Homo sapiens: one gene and its partners. The protein of the gene in region 1 interacts with the protein of each later gene in a biochemical or structural test. Each region holds a gene or a part of one and is shown on either strand. Other genes may lie near its edges.

Evidence for each region.
Region 2: of the proteins of OTUD3 (region 1) and MYL12A, one has a biochemical effect on the other in vitro, tested with the Homo sapiens proteins (one study listed by BioGRID).
Region 3: of the proteins of OTUD3 (region 1) and UBE2L3, one has a biochemical effect on the other in vitro, tested with the Homo sapiens proteins (one study listed by BioGRID).
Region 4: of the proteins of OTUD3 (region 1) and SIX3, one has a biochemical effect on the other in vitro, tested with the Homo sapiens proteins (one study listed by BioGRID).

The regions. Positions count from the first base shown.
Region 1 is NC_000001.11:19,899,386-19,902,948, reverse strand, and holds part of OTUD3 (OTU domain-containing protein 3), read right to left. Parts: intron 1-3,563.
Region 2 is NC_000018.10:3,246,370-3,250,660, reverse strand, and holds the start of MYL12A (myosin regulatory light chain 12A), read right to left. Parts: upstream 2,861-4,291; 5' UTR 2,752-2,860; intron 1,301-2,751; exon of another isoform or gene 1,218-1,300; intron 1,100-1,217; exon of another isoform or gene 1-1,099. UniProt on the Homo sapiens protein: Myosin regulatory subunit that plays an important role in regulation of both smooth muscle and nonmuscle cell contractile activity via its phosphorylation. Implicated in cytokinesis, receptor capping, and cell locomotion.
Region 3 is NC_000022.11:21,570,684-21,574,246, reverse strand, and holds part of UBE2L3 (ubiquitin-conjugating enzyme E2 L3), read right to left. Parts: intron 1-3,563. UniProt on the Homo sapiens protein: Ubiquitin-conjugating enzyme E2 that specifically acts with HECT-type and RBR family E3 ubiquitin-protein ligases.
Region 4 is NC_000002.12:44,940,257-44,944,501, reverse strand, and holds the start of SIX3 (homeobox protein SIX3), read right to left. Parts: upstream 2,801-4,245; 5' UTR 2,398-2,800; coding exon 1,592-2,397; intron 1-1,591. UniProt on the Homo sapiens protein: Transcriptional regulator which can act as both a transcriptional repressor and activator by binding a ATTA homeodomain core recognition sequence on these target genes.

The DNA of each region.
Region 1 (3,563 bases):
AATAACCACTGTAAATCCACAGAATGATGTCTTCATTCCCACTAAAGGAAGAAACACAATAATCACTCCCCCCATTATTACTTAACAATATTTTGGAGGTAACAGCCAAAGTATTTAGCCAAAATAAATTTTAAGTATAAAATTAAAAAGAAAAAAGTAATCTGTCTTTGTAGATGATATAATTCTGTAACTGAAACAAGAGAATCAACAAAAAACTACTGCAAACCAAAAAAATTACAGCAAATCATATACCTGGGTAAGAATCTAGCATCTAGAATATATTAAAAAACTCTTACAACTCAAAAAGGCAGAACCCAATTAAAAAATAGGCAAAAGACTTGAATAGACATTTTTCCAAAGATATACAAATGGCCGAAAACCACATGAAAAGATGTTCAATGTCATTAGCTATTAAGAAAATGCAATTCAAAACTTTAAGATACTGGCCGGGCGTGGTGGCTCATGCCTGTAATCCCAGCACTTTGGGAGGCCGAGGTGGGTGGATCACGAGGTCAGGAGATCGAGACCATCCTGGCTAACACGATGAAACCCTGTCTCCACTAAAAACACAAAAATTTAGCTGGGCGTGGCGGTGGGTCCCTGTAGTCCCAGCTACTCGGGAGGCTGAGGCAGAAGAATGGCGTGAACCCGGGAGGCGGAGCTTGCCAGTGAGCCACGATCGTGCCGCTGCACTCCAGCCTGGGCGACAGAGCAAGACTCCGTCTCGAAAAAAAACTTTAAGATACTAACTAGGATGACCATTTAAGAAAAAAACATTTGTCAGAGAGGATGAAGAGAAAGCAGAGCCTTCATACATTACCGGTGGCAAGTAAAACAGTGCAGCTGCTGTGGAAAACCGTTTGGCAGTTCCTCAAAATGTTAAATTTAGGTTTATCATATGACCCAGCAATTCCACTCCGAGGTATATCCAAAAAGACTGAAAATAGGTATTTGTAAAAATACTGTACACATATACTCACAGCAGCACTATTCTCAATAGCCAAAAGGTGGGAACAACCTAAATGCTCATTAACAGATGAATGGGTGCACAAAAAATCATCTCTCCAAACAATGGAATATTATTCAGCCATAAAAAAGAATGAAGTACTGATACATGCTACACCATGAATGACTCTCAAAAACATTATACTGAGGGAAAGAAGCCACAAAGAAAAAGTCACATATAATTCCATTTACATAAAATGTCCAGAATAGGCAAATTCATAGAGAAGAAGGGCAGATTGGTGACTGCTAGGGGAGAGGGGGAATTGGGAGTCACTGCTTAATGGATATGAGGTTTTCTTTTGGGGTGATGAAAATATTTTGGGACTAGACAGAAGAAGTGGTTGTACAACAAACACTGCAGATGTACTGAGTACCACTGGACTATATATTTTTAAATGATTAATTTTATGTTATGTGAATTTTGCCTTAACTTTTAAAAAAAGAGGGGTTCTGTGGGATACCTATGTAATTAACATCTTGTTATTAACAGCTCTCACAGACAAATGATAACCAACTAGAAAACATAAAAGATCTCTTTACAATAGACACAAAAAACACAAAACACCTCCTAAGAATAAACTCAACAAAAAGTGGGCAAGATCTATATGAAGAAAATGTTCCTGTGGATCACAAAGTCAATTAAATAATAAAAGACTCAACATCAAAAAGATGTCAGCTTTTCCTTAAATTACTCTATTAATTTAATGAGATTCCAATTTTAAAAAACTCAATAGGGCCGGGCACGGTGGCTCACGCCTGTAACCCCAGCACTTTGGGAGACCAAGTTAAGCAGATCACTTGAGGTCAGGAGTTCAAGACCAGCCTGGCCAACACGGTGAAACCCCGTCTCTACTAAAAATACAAACATTAGCCAAGGGTAGTGGCGAGCGCCTGTAATCCCAGCTACTCGGGAGGCTGAGGCAGGAGAATCGCTTGAACCCGGGAGGCAGAGGTTGCACCACTGCACTCCAGCCTGGGCAACAGGGCAACAGAGCAAGACTCTGTCTCAAAAAAAAAAAAAAAAAAACAAAAAAAAAAACCTCAATAGGATTTCCTTTGAACTAGACACATTGATTCTAACATTCATTTTGTTTTTTTTAAAAAAGACAACATATAAGGAAACTTATAAAAAGAAAATTAATTATGAGTGAAAAATCCTACCAGATTTTAAAATATACCAACTAAAACAATGAGGCATCAACATGTGAACAGGGAGATCAGTGGACCAGAACCAAATGTCTAGGAATAGACCCAAATACATATGGGAATTTAGTATATGGAAAGAAAGTGGCATTTTAAATCAGTGGAGAAAAGATGTATAATTAATCAATGGTTTGGGTACAACTAGGTAATCACAAGGGAAATATAAAGTTGGATCCATAGCCTCCTACCCTTATTTCAATATAAATTTCAGATGAAGCCAAGATTTAATTTTTTTTTTAAGTCAAACTATGAGCTGGGTGCAGTAGCTTACATCTGTAATCTCAACACTTTGGGTGGTCGAGGCAGGAGGGTTGCTTGAGTCCAGGAGTTCGAGACCAGCCCGGGCAACAAAGTGAGACCCTGTCTCTACAAAAAATAAAAAATTAGCCAGGCATAGTGGTACACAGCTGTGGTCCCAGCTACTCAGGAGGATCGCTTGAGCCTGGGAGGTTGAGGCTGCAGTGAAACATGATCATAGCACTGCACTCCAGCCTGGGCGACAGAGTGAGACCCAGTCTCAAAAAATAAATAAATAAATAAAGTGAAACTATGAAAGTACTATTCTAAACTATGGGAGAATTCTTTTTAACCTCAGAGTGGGAAAGACTTTCCCAGTTATGACCCAAAATCCAAAGGGCATATAAGAAAATCGTAACAAATTTAACTATGTAAAAATCTAAAATTCTTTCATAGCAAAGACCACAGGAGAAAGAACAAAAAGACAAATGACAGAGTGCGAAAAACTATTTGCAACTCATATCACAGACAGAGGCTAATTTCCCTAATACATAAAAAGCTCCCCAAAATCATTAAGACAACTTAATAGGAAAAAAATGGAGAAAGAAAATGAATACCATTTACAAAAAATAGAAATATGTCTTAAACACAGGAAAAGATGCATAAATAAGAGAAATGCAAATTAAAACTAGGTTAAGTAAACAATTTTTCCCCTAACAATGAAAAGGATTTAAAAATTTGGTAACACTATGTTGACGAAGTGCACCGTGCAGGAAAAGAGCCACATATTGCAGGTGGGAGTTTAAACCGGTGAAATCTTGTTAGAACGTAATTTGACAATTCACTTATCAACATCCTCTGATGTGGCAAGGACCTTCTAGGAATGTGTCCCACAGATACATGAGTGAAATGAGGTACATAAAAGGTACTGCACATTGCTTATAATAGCAAAGGGTTAGAAACCACCTAAAAGTCCATCAGTAAGTGACTGGTCAAAAATATTATAATGCATCTACAGAACAGAACACTACGCAGCCTTTAAAAAGGATACAGGAAGTTCCTTATGTACTACCATGAATTAAATCCCAAGACATGTTAAATTTAAAAAGCACAGTGCA
Region 2 (4,291 bases), on another chromosome or scaffold:
GTTAATTCTATCAAAAACTGGCAGTGTAATGTTGAGGAAGTTACTACCTAGGCCTTTACTTTTTCAAGGAGGCTGGATTCTGATCTATGAGTTATTTTCCACCAGAAACCTTTCAGCGATAGGGAGTTTGGCTGCACAGTCACTGTTCCAAAATACAGAAACTGTGGGGTTTTTTCCCTACCAAACTAAAAGTGTGGGGAGAATAAATAATGGTGGAGGGAGTCAAATCAGGAACAGTGCTATGATCTCAAGGAGCAGATCATTTCTGATATTGTCAGGGTCCTCTTTGCTGATTCTAGTTTGTTGTTCATTTTACTTTCCTTCAAACAATTTAGACTGTCACTCTTCATGTAATAAGCCTTCAGCAAATGCACAACTCTCATCGAAGTTTAGAAAACTAGGGTATACCCCTTAATCTAAAAAAGTTGAAATTGCTTTATTATTATACTTTAAGTTTTAGGGTACATGTGCACAACGTGCAGGTTACATATGTATACATGTGCCATGTTGGTGTGCTGCACCCATTAACTCGTCATTTAACATTAGGTATATCTCCTAATGCTATCCCTCCCCCCTCCCCCCTGAAATTGCTTTTTACAAAAAGCAAGCTAGGGTAAAATAAATTGAAAAGATTTCATGTCAATGTAATTATTCTTTAGGATGCAAAGATCGCCAGGTAAGGACCTGAGGTTTCCAAATTACGAAGCTCCTCAATCATAAAGTCGAGTCTTTATTTACTTATTTATTTTTATTTATTTATTTTTGAGACGGAGTCTTGCTCTGTCGCCCAGGGTGGAGTGCAGTGGCGCGATCTCAACCTCCACCTCCAGGGTTCAAGCAATTCTCTGCCTCAGCCTCTGGAGTAGCTGGGATTACAGGCACCCACCACCATGCCCAGCTAATTTTTGTATTTTTAGTAGAGACGGGGTTTCACCACCTTGTGCAGGCTGGTCTTGAACTCCTGACTTCGTGATCCACCTGCCTCGGCCTCCCAAAGTGCTGGAATTACAGGCGTGAGCCACCGCACCCAGCTCGAGTCTTTATTTTTGAGGGATTAAGTGAAAGATCCTTGGTGTCAAGGAGTGTCTGTTGTACGAAACTGGAAAGTAGAGAGACTTACAGAACAGGCTTCTACAAAATATGAGGATTTCAGATGCATGAGAAAGTGGATGAAGGGCAGTTAGGAGACTGAGTTTACAGATCTAAAGGAGCATAACCTTTTTTTTAAGTCAGGCGAGGTGAGCGCTGGTGGCAATGAATCTGGTTTTTATTTTGTGTTTTAGCTCAGAATCATTGTGGGCTGTAACGAGAGATACACAACATGATTAAGGAAAATGTTAGACTAGATTAATAGGTGGGAGAAATAGAAGAGATTCTCAAAGTGGCTTTCCCCACACACCAAAGGACACAAGAAGTTTTCAGAATCTCTAGAAACTATGTTCATTTATAAAATGGGATTAATCCATACCAATATATACATTAGAGTTCTGTGGTTAGAATCCTAGAGTCCAGCATTTATTTACAAAGTGGCAATAAATGTAAAATAACCTAGAAACTTCTTCTACAAAACGAACACTCAAATTGATAATATTCTGAGAAATATCACACATTCTGCAAGAAAAAACCACCATCTTACAAAACACTGCGTACTGTGATAGCACCTAGTATTTGGTGGGCTTTCTAAACCCTGACCAAATATACCGCCTCATTTAATCAATGCACTTAAAAAAAAAAAGCCTAAGTATAACTTATTTTCTGGTGCTAACCACAATTTTTAAAAAGTGTATTTCAAGTTGGTGCTTCCGTTCCAAGTAAACCAAGTTTCATTTCTTATGCAAACTTCCGGTTGAAGGTAGGATTCGTTCTCTTGGACTGCCACACCCAAAAGTTCTCACCACTGGACAAAGACAATTAGCTGTGAGGGCTGACTTGCCAGTAAAGCCTCGCTTTTGAAAATAGAGTGCTTTTCTGATTACCGTTTATTAGAGCCCTTCCAGAACATGAAACAAATACCAATAATTTTAAGAAATATTCGCTTTATTCGCCTTTAAATATGAAACTTTTTGCACTTAAGTTAAAATCTCTGCTAAATCCATAGGTCTCTCAAGAACTGACAGATACATTCATATACCTACTAAACTACTTTAAAAAGAAGACACTTCCATGGCGAATTGAATTAGCCCAAACTTTCCCCCCAAATGGGACAAGGTATTACATTTTGGAGTTTTTCTTCGAGTCACAAACTAAACTCCAGATCTCTCTGTCCAAAATTTCATCGCTTAAAGAAAAAAAGTTCTAATTACAGGAGCGGATACTGAGCTGAAGAACTTCCCAATTTGAGTTGGTTATTCCTACTAAACGCAGCCACACAGCTGCAACAACAGCTGCAGCAGGGGGACAACGGGCTACGTTTTTGCGCAAACCCTCTTGAATCGGGCAAGTTGACGTTAGAAACTAAAATAGTCCCGGAGTCAGCTCTGCAGGGGTCGGGTTTCGCGGGCCCGGCAGTCGCCCAAGCTCAAGGCGCCAGTGAGCGAAGCCACATTTCCAGAGTTCCAAGTTTGGGCACAGGAGCGAAGTTCGGGTCTGGGCCACTCCAAGCCATGGCCTCGGATCCCAGAACCGGGGACCTGGCTGGCACACCTGCCCAGGTGCGCTACCGGCGCCAGGAGCCCCGCCGCCCTCCAGCTGCCCCCGCGGAGACGGGTCCCCGGGATGGGTCTCACGCGCCCGAACGCGAGCGCCACTCACCCGGCACAGCTACGAGAATCCGAGCACCTCTCCGAGCCCCTCGCTGCCGCTATCACACCACCCTGCTACCCAGAGAGCCGCTAAAAACCACCGCTTCCGGCCTCTGCTTAGCAAGCCGGAAGGAAGCCCGGTCACCTTTCTTGGCCCGCAGAGTGGGTCTGACTTCACGGAGGGGCGACAGAGAGGGAAGTCGCCAGTGTGGTCAGCGGGCGTGGTATTGACCAAGTGCATGAGAAGGAAGTGTAAAGTGGGCGACCTAGAATATAGAGCAATATATAATGGTCCTCTGGGTCCTGTTACTGAGTTTCCTTCTTTTTTGTACCTGTTGTTGCAGTGTTAAGTCTTCCTCCCCCCTATCCTTTCCGCAGATGGTTGCGTCCGTCCTGTGGCTTTGCCTGGCCGCACATTCCAGGGCACGGCGAAGGGCGGGGCCCGTCGGCCCAAGTCCTTGTAGGGAAATCGAGGAGAGGGCTGCGGGCCCACGTGACTGACCCTCGCCCCGCCCCGAAGCCGGGCTCCAGCTTGTGGGCGGTAGTGCGCCTGCGCTTGACGCCCCGCGCGGGGTCTGGGTCTCCGCCTGAGGGCCCCGGAGCAGTGCGCGTATCCCGGGAGCGGATCTTGATGCTAGCTCTGTGTGCAGTGTAATTTTATTAAGAGTCCCGCCCCCTCCATACGGGAGGAAACGTGTGTCCCTGGGGCCCTCAGCCAAGCCTCCACTATCTTTTTGGCCCAGACGGATTTCCCAGGTCACAAGTGGCTGGAGACTTCCTCTTGAAAAACATTTGCCGTCGTTTTTCCCTGGCAGAGCCCCTTTGACCCTGGCTAACAAGGACAGCCTGACTTGGATCCCACTATGCAGGAAGGAAGGCGACTCTTCCCCGCACCTCTTGCTACGATTAGGACTTGCGACTTGGTGAAAACAGGAATCAAAACTTGGGCCTATTTCTCCTGAGGTCTGCTTGCCTAGAACAATTCGTAACGATGAATCTTATTAAAAAGAGAAAGTCCTCCCCGACTTTATCTTTTTCCGCCCAGAATCCGATAAGGAAGACTTGTTCTGGCCCCCTCAGCTCTCTGACCTCACCTACCAGAGGAGAGAGTGGGATCCTCTAACACTCGAGCCGTCATCCCAGCACTAGGGGACAGTGACCAGTGTGGCTCCCGTGGCCAGAACCCTTCTGAAGTTTGGGTTGCCCTGTGGTCTTCGCCTTCAAAGCAGGCCGCCACTTGAATCCTTCTGGAACGGACAGTGTTGCTGTAAACGCCGCGGAATAGTATCTTCTAAGTATTCGTAGCTTCTTTCTTGAGGGATCTCGGGAACGTTCCGTGTATTAACCACTAACGTATTCCAAAGTTAACTTCGTGGTAAAGTCGCTGGGGAAAAAAATAACTGCTCCAGTTCCACAGGTGATTGAAACAAAAGTGATCTGTTTCCCAAACTTCCTTGATGGTAAAGAATGACTTGGGGTACTAATTAAAAATAAAAATAATTGCGTCATTTCCAACCTACTAAATCGGAGTCTTTAAGGGCAGGTCCTGG
Region 3 (3,563 bases), on another chromosome or scaffold:
GCTATGCTGTAGTCTTCCTCTAAACAGCTTTGCTCTGAGCAAAAGCCCCTTCCTCCCTTTCTTATAGGGGTGGGGGGCTTGGGGAGGTTAGGCTTATTTATGTCCCCCAAGAACAGGCATGATGAAGCTGGCCACAGGAGATACATGCAAAGCCCTTTCTGAGTGAGTGGCATGCCACTTCTCCTGGATAGCTGTAGCATCCAGGAGATATGTAGATCTGGCCCCTCAACCTAAAGGCTATGGCATCTCTGCCACCTGTCCTTAAATCCATCAGCACTGCCCTCAGTGACCCCTCTATAGAGAGGTAGCTCACCCTCCAAGGCTGGCCTGGCAGAGGGAGGTCTCCTAGCTCTGGAGGAACCAGGTGCACTGGACATGCCAATCTGGGGTAAAATCAAGCCAATGCCTCAACACTTCTGGAAAGCATCTCAGGGGCTGGCCTAACTAAAACCCAAAGCGGGACGGCACAAGGTCAGACGCAAGCAGCACTGGGGAGTAGGCAGATGGTCTCTGGGGCTCCTCAAAGCATTTCCCATAGGCACTGCCCACAGCCCTCCTGAGGGATGAGAGAGACTCAACCTCACTGGCCACCCAGTCCGTCTTCTTCAACTGCTGAAACCCTACTCGTGCTTAAAGGGCCAGGCCAAGTTCGACCTCCTCCTCAGTGTCAGAGGGGGTCTTTCCCTCTCCTGCAAGCCATTATTCAGGTGGCAGACATCTAGCACACAGTGGCCAGCCCAGGATTTCTTTGTTCCAGGTACGTGCCATTTTTCTCCTTTGTTGAGCTCCTCAAGGGCAGAGGAATTGCCCCTTGAGCTGAGTCTCAAAGGTCAAAAAGTTACCCTGGTACAGAGAAGAGACAGGGATGCCAATCACGAGATCCAGAGTGTGTGTGCAAAGCATGCTGTTTTTAGGGGACTCAACGGGCAAGTGGGGAGAGACAAGGCTGGTGAGACAAGACCTTGAAGGAAAAAGCTAAGGAATGTGCACTTGTAATCCAGAGTCCCAGCCTCATCCTCACCCTACTAAATTCTGCTCCAATCTCTGAGAGCAGGGCCTGCTCATGTGCACTTCTCTACTGCACACCACACCATACACTACTCTGATGCACTGCTGGTTAGGAGTAGTGTGGGACAGAGAGTGCGCTGACCAGTAAGGAGTTTAGATGAACCATTAAGGAGCTCGATGCAGGTGTCTACCACAAACAGGGATGGCCTGAACTGAGGCAGTGGGAGTGGCAGTGGCATTGGGAGTGGGAGTGGGGATGGAGAGAAGACAGGCAGAGAAGAGAGACTGAAGGCATAGTTCAGCAGAATCCGCCAGGTGACTAGACAAGGGAGGAAGAGCCGAGAAGGGCTCCGCTGGCGTTTTTTCCTTGAGCAACTGAGTAGACAAGTGAACCATTAACTAAGGTGGGACAGGAGGAGATGCATGGGGCCAGAGGGAGAGAGTCACAGGAGGAGCTAAGACTCAGATGCCTACAGATCTATGTGCCGTTCCCAAGAAAACTCTGGAAGTGGTTGGAGTCTGGCTCAGGAGGAACGTCTCTGTGGCTCTCTAATGTGCACAGTGTGTGCAGTGTGTGTGCAGTGTGAAGCTGCAAAGAAATGTGGCTCTCACATTTACTGCTGTAGCAAAGAATATAGAAATATCTTAAACGTAATAAATGTTCCAATAAAATGAGAATACTTTCAAGTGTCCTCTTATAATAAAATTTTAAAGCAACAGTCTCCTAATTTAGAGTTTTAACAAGATCAGAAAAGGCCCCAGTACCCTGAGACAAGAGTTTTTGTCTCAGGGTTTTCTTTTTTTTTTTTTTTTTTTGAGACGGAGTCTCGCACTGGAATGCAATGACACAATCTTGGCTCACCGCAACCTCTGCCTCCCGGGTTCAAGCAATTCTCCTGCCTCAGCCTCCCGAGTAGCTGGGATTACAGGCACCCACCACCACGCCCAGCTAATTTTTTGGATTTTTAGTAGAGACGGGGGTTTCACTATGTTGGCCAGGCTGGTCTCGAACTCCTGACCTCATGATCCGCCCACCTCGGCCTCCCAAAGAGCTGGGATTACAGGTGTGAGTCACCACGCCTGGCCTGCCTCAGAGTTTTCTAGTAAATACCTTAAAAGGTCCCAAATGTTGCAATAATTGAGTATACTCCTTCCCATCACCTGTCCCAAACATTTACAAAGAATACCATTAAGGGAGGCTGAAACAGTCCCAACTTACTGGAATGCATGAATTTAGAAAAAAAGACGCAACGTTTTTCTCAATTCACAAAGCCTCAGTGGATTCAGGACATTTACACTGGCATAACATCACATATAAAACTCCCCTCACCTCCTGAAACATGTGACATACTCATTGCTCTATCTCCTTAATCACCCAACCTCAGAATCTAAACCTATACTCAAAAGCAAACTACCTCACTGCTTAATACAACGAAACCCAAGGAATGAACTTTTAGAGGTTCCTCCTACTATGACTATGAACTGGGAGAAAATATAACAATATGAAGTTCTGAGTGAACATTTTTAAATAGCATTAGGCTGGGCGCAGTGGCTCACACCTGTAATCCCAGCACTTCGGGAGGCCTCGGCGGGCAGATCACCTGAGGTTAGGAGTTAGAGACCAGCATGGCAAACATGGTGAAACCTCCTTTCTAATACAAAATTAGCAGGGAGTGGTGGTGCACACCTATAGTATCAGCTACTTGGGAGGCTGAGGCAGGAGAATCGCTTGAACCTGGGAGGCAGAGGTTGTAGTGCACAGAGATCGTGCCATCGCGCTGAAGCCTGGGCAACAAGAGTGAAACTCCTTAACTCAACAGTTATGTCATGATAAGTAATAAGACATTACACACACACCCCTCTAAATCCACAGATTTCCCCTCTGAGAAAAGCCCTTCTGGGAAGCTACTCAACAGGAGGGCCCTTAGGGGAAATGTGTGCAGTGTGAAGCTGCAAAGAAATGATCAGATGGCAATCAGTTGCCTAAGCCACACATAAAGGTTTCACTTTTGGCTTTTGCAGCAATTTCCCCATCCTGATTGAAGCAATGGTTACAATCTGGTTGTAGCCAACAATGCTAAATTAGCTGCTTGCAAATTAAAATGTACTTAATGTTTTATTAACACTGTAATTCCTAAAAAGGCTTCTAAAAGAGGTTAAGCCTCCTGGCAAGTGCTTTTGAAATAAAAGACTTTATCATACTCACTTTGCCTAAAATAACTTCTCAGTGTAGTATATGTAAATCACTCTACTTTTAATAATGTGTTTTACACTATCTGCAGACAGTCCATTGTTACAAAGAAATCTTTGCTGTGGAATGTCCTAGAAAACATTTTTAACAGAAATCTAAAGTTCTTTAAGATGTAATTAATTTGATCATTCAACATTTGCTAGATTGCTATGCCTAAGGCACTGTTCCATGCACTAAGCCCCAACTTTTCACCAACGAAAATCACTTTATTACCACCCTATGTACTGAAAAGACTGTTTATCAACTTGTATCAATAATTTTTCTTCCTTTAAAAGAAAAAAAAAACAGTCTTAAACATTGATTC
Region 4 (4,245 bases), on another chromosome or scaffold:
CGCTCCCCATTCCGCTTTCGGGAGCATCCCAAGTCTTCTCAGATAGAGGCTGGCCTCGGAGGAGAGGCAGAACCCGAGCCCGGCCGCTTGGGGAGGCCTGGGTGCAAGCGACAAAGTACGCCAAGCCCTGGAGAAGCAGAAGTCGGAGAGGAGCCGGGCGCTTCTTCCCTCCGCAGTCCCTGGGGCTCTTCAAACTGAGCCGGCTGCCCCGCGACCGGTCGAGTTCCCCTAGTAACCCCGTCCCTGCTCCCTCAAACACACACCGGGAGCTGCGGGTTCCCCACCGCCCGGCCAGTCTCCGGGTAGAACTGCATACTTTGCTCTCTGGATGCCAGCGCAGAGCGCAGGACCGAGGGTAGAGAAAATAGGAAAGCTGGCGGTGGAAAAGTGGGGAAAGAGCAGGGAGACAGAAAAGGGGCAAAGGAGAAGGCAAGAGAGGCGCACAGAGCAGTCTCCAGCTGCCCTTTCCCCCACCGGGAACCTTCTGCCTGGACCTGGTGTCTGGAATTCTCTCCACAAGGAGGCCTTGGCTTGACCCTGGGCGCTCCCCTCATCAGACGAAAAGTGGGCTCCACGGCAGGGGTGAGAGGGCCATGGGCTCAGGTCCCGGCCGCCTAAACTCGAACACACCTCCAGAAACTCACACCCAGCCCCCACCCACGGGCAGCTGTCAGCAGCTGGGGGTCCTGCTCCCTGAAGTACACCAGGCCCTGGGCCTTCCTGGCTGGATAGAGAAAGACACAGGCTCCACATCAGGGCTTTCACCCAACTTCCTCTTTTCTTTCTCCCTTCTCTCCCCACTCCTTTCGCCTATCCACTTCTTTCCCTCTGGTTCTTTTTCTCCTTCCCCCAGGCCCAGCTCCTGTGATGTTGGTCAAGCCCTATACAATTTTGTGACTTTGTGGCCAACTTGCCGGCAACGAGGCTGCTCGTGCCCGCTTCCCAGCTTAGAGGACCAAAGGGATTCTCCTCGGCTGAAACAGGAGGGCGAGTACATGCACACGGGCGTGCACACACACACGCACACGCACACGCTAGGCCTCTCCACTCCCAGCCCGGCTCTCCTGCTCCCGGTCAGGCAACGTGCAGCGTTGCGGGGAAACAGGCCCGCTGCGCAGTGGCCTCTGGCCTTTTCCCCTTGTGATAGGGACCCAGGTTCACTTTCCTCTCTCTGACGCTAGTGGATTTCTCTCGGGGTTTTGCAACGCACAGAAATAAGAACCAGATGGCAAAGAGTGCTTTCCTTCCCTCCCTGTCTCTAGGCTCCAGAGGATCGCCGAGCTGGCGGCAGGGCTGAGGAGGCAGGCACGGGTGCAGCGCAGGGCTAAGTCTCCCAGGGGCTGCGGGTACTCGGGTCGCAAGCACACACTCTCTGCCCTGACGAAAGCCCCTCTTGGTCAAAGCAATCAATACACCCACAGCCAGCCCGGCCCCCTCTTCCGCGCGTCCCGGACAAGCGGAAACTTTCTCCGACTGGCCAGGAGTCACGGCTTCCCTGGCTCTCAGCGGCCGCTCCGCTAGCCCCATCTCAACCCCTCTCCCCTTCCCAGGCCTCTGAGGCTGTAGCCAGGCCGCGGGCCCCGCCACTAACCTGTTCTTGGCCGCCGCGGCGCGGTCGCGCTGCCGCCGGTTCTTAAACCAGTTGCCTACTTGTGTGGGAGTGAGGCCGGTGGCCTGCGCCAGTTCGCGTTTCTTGCTGGGGTTGGGGTAGGGGTCCTGTAGGTACCACTCCCGCAACAGGCTCCGAGTCCGCTCCTTGAAGCAATGCGTCTTCTGCTCGCCGTCCCAGATGGTGCGTGGCAGCGGGAACTTCTTGCGCACGCGGTACTTGTCCACCGGGCCGAGTGGGCGGCCGCGCAGCTTCTCGGCCTCCTGGTAGTGCGCCTCGAGCCACATGGCCTGCAGCTTGCCGTGAGACTCCTTGGTGAACTTGTGGTTCTCAAGGATGTGGTAGAGGTCGCGGAAGTTGCCCGTGTGGAAGGCGACCACGGCGCGCGCGCGCAGGATCGACTCGTGTTTGTTGATGGCCTCGCACGCCCCGGGGGCCACGGGCAGCGACCAGAGGAAGCGGCCCAGCCGCTCGATGTCGCCCGTCTCCTCCAGCGTCTCACAGACGCTGGCCACCTGCTCCGGCGAGAAGTTGAGGGTGGGCAGCTGGAACATGGACAACTCTTCCGGGGGGGCCCTGGAGCCGCCGCCGCCGCCGCCGCCTGCTCCGCCAGCACCGCCGCCTCCCGCACCGTTCCCGCCGCCGCTGCCGCCTCCCGCGCCGCCGCCGCCTCCCGCACCGTTCCCGCCGCCGCTACTCGCCAGAAGTATGGAGCGGTGGTGAGAATCGGCGAAGTTTGGCAACAAGAAGTGGGAGGAATAGAGGTCTAGGGGGGAGCGGAATACCATGGACTGACCTGAGAGGAGAGGAGAAAATTCAGGGAGAGGAAGAGAGAGGGGAGGAAGAGGAGGAGAGGGGCGATGAGGACCAGGAGGAGGGAGAGGAGAGGGGGGAGGAGGAGAAGGAAAGGAGGGGGGAGCAGGAGGAGGAGGGAGAGGAGGAAGGGCGTAAGGGACACCCACACCCCACACACATCCACACACACACACACCCGCGCAGCCACATAGAGAGGGAGGTAGGAGAGCGGCCCGGTGCGCGCGCGCAGAGAGAGAACCCGAGACAGAGAGGGAGAGGGAGAGGGAGAGAGGAGAGGGAGAGCCAACCACCGCCGAGTCAAGATTCAGCGATTCCACCGCAATCGCCCTAATGACAACAGCCTCATAATATCTCCCCTAAATCCACAGTGAGTGCAGCATTGAAACATTTTGTTTCGCTTTTCTATTGGTCTGTGGCGTGTCGTTGTGGCGTTGCCACGGCAACCACTGCCAATCACTGTCAGCCCTGCCAATCAATACCGAGAACGTAAGGACGGTTTTACCACTTAGCCAGAGGGCGGGGGGAGGGGGAGAGCAGGGAAGGAGGGAGAAGTGGGGGGATAAAGAGAATTTTTTTTATCTTTGCAACTCTTAATCTCGCTACCTCCCCCTCCTCTCTTCTCTCTTCTCCCTCTCTCTCCTCTTTTCTCTACCGCTGTCTCTGAGACTTCTTCTTCCCTTTTTCCTAAAGAAGTTGATCCAGAAATTCGAAAAGCCCTGGGCAGAGTTGTTGAATGGGATGTGCAATTAGAGAGGGGATTTTGTTGGGAGGCAAGAGGGTCCCCCAGGCTCCACATAGTCCAGGTCGGCAGGCAAGGAAAGACGGCTGACCAGCCCAGCGGGCGCGGTTTGCACATGGTTTGCACGTCGGGCCGCCTCTTTCTGCCTATGTGAGCACTAATAGTGGCAAGGAAGAAAGGAGAGATGAGATCATGGGGCCCACCAAGCACCGACCTTGGCCCAGCGGGCCGTGGCGCCAGCCGGGGATCCCGGATTCCGAGGGTATCTGGCGCCAGGGAGCCTGAGCCCAATTCCCAGGGTGCTGGAGGCCGCTCTTGCCTCCCCCATCGGTGCCCATGGACCGCATTCACCTCAACTCCCTCTTCATCAATTAGGCTTCTCTTTACTCCCTCCCCGGCCAAGGAGCCTCGATTTCCCCCACCACCCTGTATTTTAAAATAACAGTCCAAACAGTACACTTCTTTCCATCTTAAGAAGCAACTCAACTCTTTGTTTCTTCCCAGAATTCAGCTGCCTCTCTGAGGAGTGGTGGAGGAGCTGCGGGAGCCGAGAAGCCCAAGAGCCCTCTGGACCCAGAAAAGTCCTACAGATGCCCACTCCTCACCACACAACAGAAGGAGCTCTGGTCCTGCCTGCCAGCCCCAGAGGGCACTCAAACTTTGGAGGCCAGCCACCCGGATGAAGTGAATAAGGCCTGAAAATTGCTTGTTTGCTCGTATTGTAAAATAATAATAATTACCATTATTATTTTTAAACTGTCTAATTTCTCTAGGGAAAGTAACATCGAAAGCCTAAAACAGACGCCAAAAGGCCCATAGAACACAGAGGGCCCTCTCTGCCTCTGGCCACCACAGCCCCTAGGCCAGGCATGGGTATTTATTCTTAGGTATGTTGCTTTTAAGAAGCTGTAATCAGCATCTTGAGCCGGGCCTCCCTTTGTGAGGCTTCTGTAACTATGGAAGTGTGATTTACGCAGATTTGTCGGGGTCAGAGACGTCTTTCCCTGAGCACTGTGTATATTTAGACAGGACTCGGTTTGGTGTTAAAAAGTGTATATGTTGAATGGATTCACACACAGTA